Regions from separate parts of the Homo sapiens genome. Here region 2 is linked to region 1. Evidence: fine-mapped expression QTL. A gene starts in region 1. The other region holds a variant in brackets. All regions are shown on one strand. Distances are between the middles of the regions. Region 1 holds the start of EHD3 (EH domain containing 3). Region 2 overlaps EHD3 (EH domain containing 3).

Region 1 (4,385 bases):
AAGATTGAGGACTGGAGTGAAGCCTGTTCTCTAAAGATAAGAAGGGCCTCTGGTGGACTTCTCTGAATGCAGGGTGAACAAATTGACTTCTTGAGCCTCCCTCCAGCCCAAGGATTCTGTAATTGAAGGGAATGGATGACTCATTCTCAGAGTTACAGGCGTTTAGCCAAGCATCTCCTCACATGCATCTAGGACTTAACATCCCAGGTCTGCTGCCCACTCTTTAGATGGCTCTGCACAATTCATTTAACTTCTCTGCGCCTCGGTTATCTCACCTGCAAACTCAGCAACTGGATGAGACAATGCCAATATCCCTTCCATCTCTAAGCGTCTTTAATATTATTATTAAGCCATTAAGATCAAATAAGAGAAAGGGGAAAAAAAAAGCATTCTGCTTCTGGACTCAGCTTCTGTTGAGTCTCCAAGATATATACACAGGAGCTCTGCTTTAGAGAAGGAAATGATAAAAGGAGGACAAGTAGCATCCCCAGGCCACCTCCGTTCCCAGGCCCGCACCCATCAGAACTCAGCTGCAACTGTGAGGCCCCCATGTGAGTGCCAAGCCCCTTGAAAAACAAGGGAAGAGGTTTTGCCCGTGAATGATGTGTTGCTAAAAAGTGAAGACGTAAGACATCCCCACCAACATAAGGCGCTCCAGAGACCAGGAGCTCTTCCATTGTGCCTCCTGGGCCTCGGTTTCATCATCCATAAGATGGGGAGACTGGGAATGGCTTTACACTTGAATACTTCAGGTTGACCACCACAGCCAAGGGCCAAGTAGAGTGGACAGGTATTGGGTAGGATGGGAAGGGGGACCAGCAAAAATTGTGGGGTAAGATTTTGACGCCTGCACAAACACAGATCTCTTCAGAGCCCTCAACTGAAGGCTTCCCATTGGTCCCCTGTCTGGGATGGAGCACCAGGAGTGACCGGAGGGACTAGGCGCTGGGCTCCGGGGTGGGCTGCCAGGACCCTGGGCCGGCTCACCTGATGAAGGTGGTCTTCCCAGTGGAGTACTGGCCCACCAGCAGAACCATGGGCTTGTTGTCGAAGTCGGCATCCTCCAGGGCGGGCGAGTGGAACTCGTGGAAGCGGTAATGCTCTTCCAAGGGCAGCAGCTTGCTCTTGTAGAGTTTCTTGAGCCCCTCACTCACCGTCTGGAAAACCTCGGGGTCCTTCCTCCGGCGGTCGTCCGTACCCAGCCAGCTGAACATCGCGGCCGCCGCTCGCCCCCGGCACGCAGCCCCAGGGGAAGACTCCTCCTCAGGGGAAGATGTCCCGTAGGACCGGTCCGCCGGGCTCCGAGCCGCGCCGCCGCCTCACCCAAGCGCGGGGCTCAGCCGCACCATGGCCCGGGCACGCGGCTAGGAGGGCCGGGAGCGCACTCTCCCTGCTCCTGGGACCAAGCCCAGCCGCTGCTGCATCCAGCAGCCCAGGCCGGAGGGAGGATAAATAATCTGGGCTTGAGGAGGAGGGGTGAAATCTTGGCAATTAAAGTTGAACCTGCAAGGAAACTGCCAGATGCCGGGGTCCCAAGCCGGGGTCCCCGATCGGCCCCCAGCCCTCGCCTGCTCTGCCCTGCGTGCAGCAAGGGATGCTTCGGCTCCGCTCCTGCCGGACCGAGGCGGCTCAGGGGAGACGGCGACGCTGCCCAGCCCGCGGACAGCTCTGCATCCGCAGCAGCATCCTGCAGCCCCAGGCGGTGGTTTAAATGCCAGCTGGGCAGGAAGCCGGCGCGCAGAGGAAGTCCCCTAGTACTGGCAAGGCAGGGCCGGCCCCACGGTTGCGGCGACGGGAAGCCGCGCAGGGCGCCGCCATGTTTGTGGGCAGGCGCTCAGCTCTAGACCTGCGGCCGCGCGGGGAGAGGGATGCTGACCCAGTCCAGTGGGAGAGTGCCGGTGTCTCAGTCTCCGCCTCTGGGGCTTCGATTTGGGAACAGCGCCCTCTCAGGGACGGCTGCGAGGACAGAGTTGACCTATTCATCACACTCCCTGCTTTGAATCGCCTCTCCTTCAGTTGCTGAGGTCAATTCCCTAGGAAAACAGGTACTCTAGTATTGGGGGATTTTTTTTTTTTTTGGCATAGAAAGGGGATCCACTATCAGGTTACACAAAATAACCAAAACTGTCACTACCCAAACTTTTAGCTAGGCTTAGGGTGAAGTCAAAATCGTTCCCATTTACTTATTCATTCATTCCAGCAAAACAAAACAAGCCAAGAAGCAAAATCCCTGCAAGTATTGGGAATTTATTATGGGGCAGTTACAATTTTGGTGACTGTGGATACAGAGATGAGTGCTGAACAGACTCTCCCTTCCAGGAACTCCAGTGAAGGCAGGCTTTAAAGAGGAGGCATGAGCAGAGGGTCATGGGAATACAGGGAGGAGTCACTCCTTTTGTGTGGCTAATTTGAGGAAGGCTTCATGGAAAGCATGACTGTAAGCTGGATCCTAAATGATGAATTGACATCCATTGTTCTAGGAGCGTAAGGAGTATTTGCAAAGGCTTGAGGAACTTGGTGTGTCCAAGGCAGAGTAAACAGTTTGGCATAGCTGGAGTGTAGGGTTTAGGAAGGTGAAAGAGAGTGAGGGAGGCCAAGCATGAAAGGCTTTGCCAGAGATGGGGAACCAATAGCAATGCTATTACTAATCATTGTTACATTAACAAAATGCTCAGCATGTGCAGGGGCCTGGGCTAAGTTCTCAGTGAACATTGCTTTATTTAACCTTCATGGCAGATCATATTATCTCCAGCATCATACTAAGGAGAGTGAGTGGGAACACTGTCCAGGTGTAGGCAAAAGCAGTGCATCGTGTGTAGAGAATTTAAACCCAATAATAAACTTGCTGAAAGTTGATGTGCTTTGTATTGGCACCATTCTAAACAGTGTAGTGATAAAACACTCCTCCCTGCCCAGGCTAATGACTCCCACTACCCTCCCTTCCACAGATGAAGAAGGAGTAGGCTATGGACCAGGCAGGAACTGGAATGCCAAGAGCAGTGTTGGAGGGGCAAAAGAGGTTGGGGGTTGATATGGTTTTGCTTTGTGTCCCCGCATAAATCTCATCTCTAATTGTAATCCCCATAATCCCCATGCGTTTAGGGAGAGAGCTGGTGGGAGGAGATTGGATCATAGGGACAGTTTCATTCATGCTGTTCTCATGATAGTGAGTGAGTTCTCGTGAGAGCTGATGGTTTTATAAGGGGCTCTTCCCACTTGGTTCCTCATACTTCTCTCTCCTGCCGCCTTATGAAGGACGTGTTTGCTTCCCTTTATGCCATGACTGTAAGTTTCCTGAGGCCTCTCTAGGCATGCAGAACTGTGAGTTAATTAAACCTTTTTCCTTTATAAATTACCCAGTCTTAGGTATTTCTTCACAGCAGTGTGAAAACAGACGAATACAGAGGCCAAGAGACCATTTAGGAAACTATTCCAAAACTTAGGAGACAGCTGCAATGGGATTGGAGAAGAGGTCAGACTCAAAAGATTTTTTTCATGGAATAGAATTGTCAGATCTTGGTATGTGATAAAAAAAAGAGGACATAAGGGTGAGGCACAGTCTAGGATGATTTTGAATTTTCTACCATAGGGGATAAGATCATTGGAGAAGCTCTTCCACTAATTAGGGGAGGCAGAGAGAGAGCTGATTTAGCAGACAGAGATAATGTGTTCAATCTAAAACGTGTTGCGTTTGAAGTGCCTGCAGGAGCTTCAAGAGGAGTGTGGTGAAGCTGCAGGGATTTCAGGGGAGGGGGGATTATCAGAGGCCAGTGCTGAATAGAATCTCCTTAGTTACATCTCAGATCTCCCGACTCCCTCCTTGAACCCCAAAACTGATCATCTCTTGTTGAGAATTCACTCAGATTAATATTTCACCCTTGGTGTTTAGCTACTACCAACATACGAACCTAAGGAGTAATATTAAAGATATTTAACAACTCACAAGGCATGAGAATCAAACACCCGGAACAGACACTGGCCTTCCTAGTGGAGCAAGGCTTGCGGCCCCGTGCCACGCCTGGTGTTAATACAGTGGCGTCTGGACCTTGGAGAGATCTGAGCCTGTCCCCGGAGAGAGGTCAGTATGGCCAGCGTGACAGGAAAGAAATCAAGGGGCCCCATTATGGAAGTATTTCAAGAATTTTGTAATCAGTACGGCCATGCCATTGTCTACTGCTGAATGTCTGTTCCGAATATCTAATTTACCAAGTGCGTGTTGACACATCTACTCCCGTCTCAGTCTTGAGTAGTTGAAATCTATCTGTTTAAAAAAGGAACTAATGGAGCATTTCTATAGACTAGCAATAAAAGGTCATGAAAGATAATATTCAAAAAAGATACTGTGTTCAAAAGAACAAAAACTTACGGATAAATCTGACAAAAGA
Region 2 (4,385 bases), 24 kb before region 1:
GCTGTGGATCCAGTAGGAGCTGAAGTAGGAGGGTGGACCAATAGTCTATACATTCACTGACACCCAGAGCCCCAGTAGGTCTTACCTCTGTGTCTCAGGCTCCTCTTACATAAAATAGGAAGACAAGAGATAAGGAAGTGGGGCTCAGAGAAGTCAAGTGATTTGTCGAAGGGCACACAGCCCATGAGCAGCAGCAGTCGCATGAAGATGGAGGTGTTAGGCTTTCCCATTCTGAGTCTGAGCAGGGTTCTCAGCCTCTCCTCCTGCCACTCCCCCGTGGCATACCTCTGGCACCAAGGTAGGAGCCCTTTCTTGGGTACTAAAGTGACCAACCATCCTGGCTCCCCATAGCACAAGGGTTCCAAGGTGACACACACTGGGGACCCAAAGCTCATTGCCACCATCGAATGGGAAACCAAATCATTAGGAAAAAGCCTGCCCTGCCTCACAGAGGGAGGCTAGAGACCAGGCAAGATCATCAGGCAACTGCCTTGTGAGTGAGTCAGACTTAAGAAGCTCTGACTGTCTTTAACAGGGGTCCTGACTTAGCCTCCATCAGAATCCCCCCAGGGCTTCTTAAAACCCAGATGGTTGGACTCTATCCCCAAAGTTTCTGATTCAGTAGGTCTGGCGCAGAGCATTTCTAACAAGCTCCCAGGAGATTCTGATGCTGTTGGTCCAAGGGCCACACTTTGAATACCACTGGCCCATAAAAATAACAATAGCATTCAAAAGGTGTTCAGCACTGACCTAAGTACTTTATAATCATTCATTCCTTTAATCCTCACGATGACTCTGTGTAGGGTCATTAGACACTAATATCAGCCCCACTTCTCTGAGGAGTAACCAGAGATACAAACAGATAAAGGAACTTGTCTAAGGTCACCCAGCTGGTAAGCAATGGGCTGGGACTCAAGTCCAGGAAGGTAGCCCTGGAGTCAGTGCTATGAACCACTGCACCGAGTTGGCTTTCACTTTCAAAGGCTGTCATTTCAGACTAAGTAGCAGGCATCGATGGGGTGGGGGATGAGGATGAATGGAGCCAACGGAGCTAGGTTTAAAAAGCCTTTCCCCCACCCTGTGGCATCTAGTGAACACCCAGTGGGGTACATATTTAGGACGTGTGGAGGCACTGCCACAGGGGGTAGGGGGATGGGATCAGACGGTCGGGAAAACTTGCTGCCCTAAAGCTTCCTGGAGGACCCCTGTAATGTTTCCCTGGTGGCTGTAAGAGAATTCTAACAAACAAAGGAAGGTCAAACCCTCCTTTGGTTACCCGGATGCCAGTACTACTCCATTTTCAGCTCCTCTGTCTTTGGTAAATGAAGTGCTTCCAAGCATTCCCATTGCCATGTGATTTTCTCCAAGATCTGTCAGCTGCTCAATGAATATACAGCTCAACTAACACCTGAGCCTTCTCCCCCTGCTCCTGTGGCGTAGACCTATGAGGCTACGAGGAGCTTAGCCATCAATGGTCCAACTTCCTGATTTACAGATAGGGAAACTGAGGCTCAGGAAGGGGCAGAGCTGGCCCAGTATCTCCAGGTGCCATCCTGAGGATAGTTCCTGATGGGTGCGTCATCGAGGGCCTGGTGTGAACTAGATTTTGCCTTCTCTTTTGAACACAGGTGTCCTGTCTCGGCTCAGAGACAAGGCCCAGGAAAGTGCTTCAGAGGCTGCTCTGCCCAGTGGGCAGGGGCATCATCAACCCTCCCTCGGAGATGTTCACGCAAACTCTAGGAGTTAAGTGACTCAGCCAATACCACCCATGAGACACGACCCCTAGCCTCCAACTCGAAGTTCAGTGCTTGCTGCAGACGGTAAGATGTTCATGTCATTATCTCATGTCACCCTCACGACACGCTCTGAGGCAGGCAGCGCGAGGAGTATCGTTCTCACTTCCAGGGGAGGAAACTGAGGTTCAGAGAGGAGAGAGTCAAACAGTTGGCAAGTCGTGAGGCCAGATGACCCAGCTGTCAGCCATCCAGCCGTTCTGCACCTGGCCGCTCCCTGCCTCCCTCCCTCCCTCCCTGGCACGCAGGCACAGCCAGCTCCTCACTGGAGCCCGGGAAGCCTAAGCATTCCCACTTCAGGTGAAGCCTGCAGCCCGCACTACTCCCCTCCTTCCTACATCCCTCTGTCCATCCTTCCCTTCCCAGGGATGGCTCCAGCCTATTTTTATCTTCCCTTCAGCACAGCGCATGGCAAGGCTGCTGTCACCTCCCAAAGGCAGTCCCTCAGAGCTGTGGGTAGGGAGGGGCCAGAGGGCTAAGAAAATCCCCAACCCCCACCT[C/A]TGCAAACAGCTCACAGCAGGAGGGCAGTAGGGACCCTCCACAACTCCCTGCCAGGCCTCTGGCCTTCTGCTGCTCCTTATTCCCCAATCTGGATTTTAGCTGTGCCAGTGCAGGCCACAGGAGGGGCTGCTGGGAGGACCAAGACTGGGCTGCAGCTCCCTCTCACCTGTCCAGCAAATCTCAGCCCCAATATATTGGCTCAATGGCTCAGAACAGGCTAAGGCAGCCAGGGCAGCCAGTGTTGAGTCCTATGCTGACAAGGTAATGGAGGTTTATAGAGGGTGAGAGAAAGGCCCAAGGCCATGCAATGCTGGGGGTCAGAGCCAAGACCTGAACTCCAAACTCAACTCTTGCACTGTAGCCACGCCTCCACCAGGCTGGGGAAAACAAAGACACCAGAGAAGCTGCAGAGAAGGGAAGAGGCTCTGTCCCTGCAACTTGCTGCAATCCCTGATGACACCAGCGATGTAAGAGAAGGCTGTGTCTGCAAAGGCTGAGGGGCAGCAATATGTCCATGCTGCCAGAACAGGATAGACCCCTGCCTATCCCTGTCCCTGCCCTCAGTGGTCTTGTAGCATCATGCACGCTCCTGTTCTGCTCTTCAGCTCACTGAAATCATCCTCGGTGCACTGGGAGCTGGACAGGGCAGGGGCAGCACCTCACCCTTCTGGGCTTCCCCTGCACCCAGCACGGTGTGTGGCACACAGCAGGTGCACTATCAGTATTTGCTGAACGGAAGTGAAACGTGGAAAACGTGGAAACCTGTTCCACGTTTGGCATCTGGGAGACAGTAAATGAGTAATCTCTGGGCCTCAGTTTTATGGTTGAGGAATCAGTGACTCAGTCGTAGGGTTATTGTGAGGATCTAAACAAATCAGAGGATGCAGGTGAAACTGCTGAGCTGTGACCTTGGCTGTTCTCATTGCCCTGCTGTTTTTTGTAAAGCACTCCTTTTAAGCCCTAGTTTCTATGAGATGGGATGTGCTCTGTAGGAGTCACCAGAGGAGCACTGGCCTGGGTGAGTCCACCTCTCGTTTCCGCTTAGCCACTAACTTACTGTGTGTCCTTGGGCAAGAATCTCCCCTCTCTAGTCCTCTGTCTCTTTGCCTGTCAAATCAGGGGATTGAGCTGGACAACCTCCGAGCTTCCTTTCTCGGTTCACAATTCTCTGCATCTGAGACCAGAGGTGTGAGGGTGGGGAGTACAACAGGATGGATGGAGATTAGCTACAAGGGACCCTTTGCAGGCACAGCAAGAGAGAGAGGCTGCAGGCTGCTGTCTTACAGGCCTCGGGGATGCCTGTGTGAAGTCTGCCTCTGCCTGAGGACAGGCCAAGGGCTTCTGGGAACTCTTTCCGTGATTTTATAAGCAGAGGCCTCCTATTTGCTCTGGAAAGCTGCTATCCAATTACAGACTCAGTAATGCCAGAAGCTTCCAGCCAGGTGTGGCTGTGAAGACCATGACCATCAAGCAATGACTCCATGGGTTGCTCTGAAGCTCGACTTCCCTGCTCCTGGCTAACCCCGAGGCTGTGTCATCTGTAGGGTGGATATTTAGTTGTTCACTTGGCCTGGACTTAGGTGCAGATCTAGGAATGGCGGTATCTCAAAGGTATGGACTGGACCCAGTAAGAAAAAGGGTATGGTATAGGATTAGCTTTCTCATTTATTTGGCAAATCTGAACCTCAATTTTCTCAGCTGCAAAATAGGGATAACAAATGACTGAATGAGGGGTCTGTGGTAGAGCTGAATGAGGACTCTGTGGTAGAGCTGTGGCAACAAGATCTGACAGCACAGACTGCCTCAGCAGCTGCGGTGAGTGCTATGGCCAGTGACAGGCCCCCTTCCCCTCTCTGGTCCCAGCGATGGCTCTGAGACCCACAACGGTAGCTCTTGGGCACCTGCGGCAGCCCAAGTGTTCATGAAATATGGACTAGTGAGTCGGGGGAGATTCAAGCCCCAAGAGACAGAGCAGAGAAGCTGCCCTTCCTGGACTTCATAGCACAAGTCTGCTGGCTCTAAGAGGTCTAGTCAGCCAGCTCCGGGCCTGGAGACTGGGCAGCCTGCAGGGATCTATGGTCCCCTCCAACC

What was found.
Region 2: its variant is fine-mapped to the expression of EHD3 in whole blood (TOPMed, PIP above 0.99).

What each region holds. Positions count from the first base shown.
Region 1 is chr2:31,231,451-31,235,835 of GRCh38, reverse strand. It overlaps EHD3 (EH domain containing 3), which reads right to left and starts at 1,684. Exons shown (of 6, transcript NM_014600.3): 1 at 988-1,684. The coding sequence starts at 1,214. It also overlaps a transcript of CAPN14 not described here.
Region 2 is chr2:31,255,091-31,259,475 of GRCh38, reverse strand. The region is part of intron 3 of EHD3 (EH domain containing 3); the gene reads right to left. It overlaps LOC124905983 (a long non-coding RNA gene), which reads left to right. Exons shown (of 4, transcript XR_007086270.1): 2 at 1,629-1,820. Among named protein-coding and RNA genes, the nearest start is that of EHD3, 23 kb to the right of the region's middle. RefSeq lists enhancers at 2,307-2,356, 2,442-3,269. The variant C/A (reference allele first, on the strand shown) is at 2,294.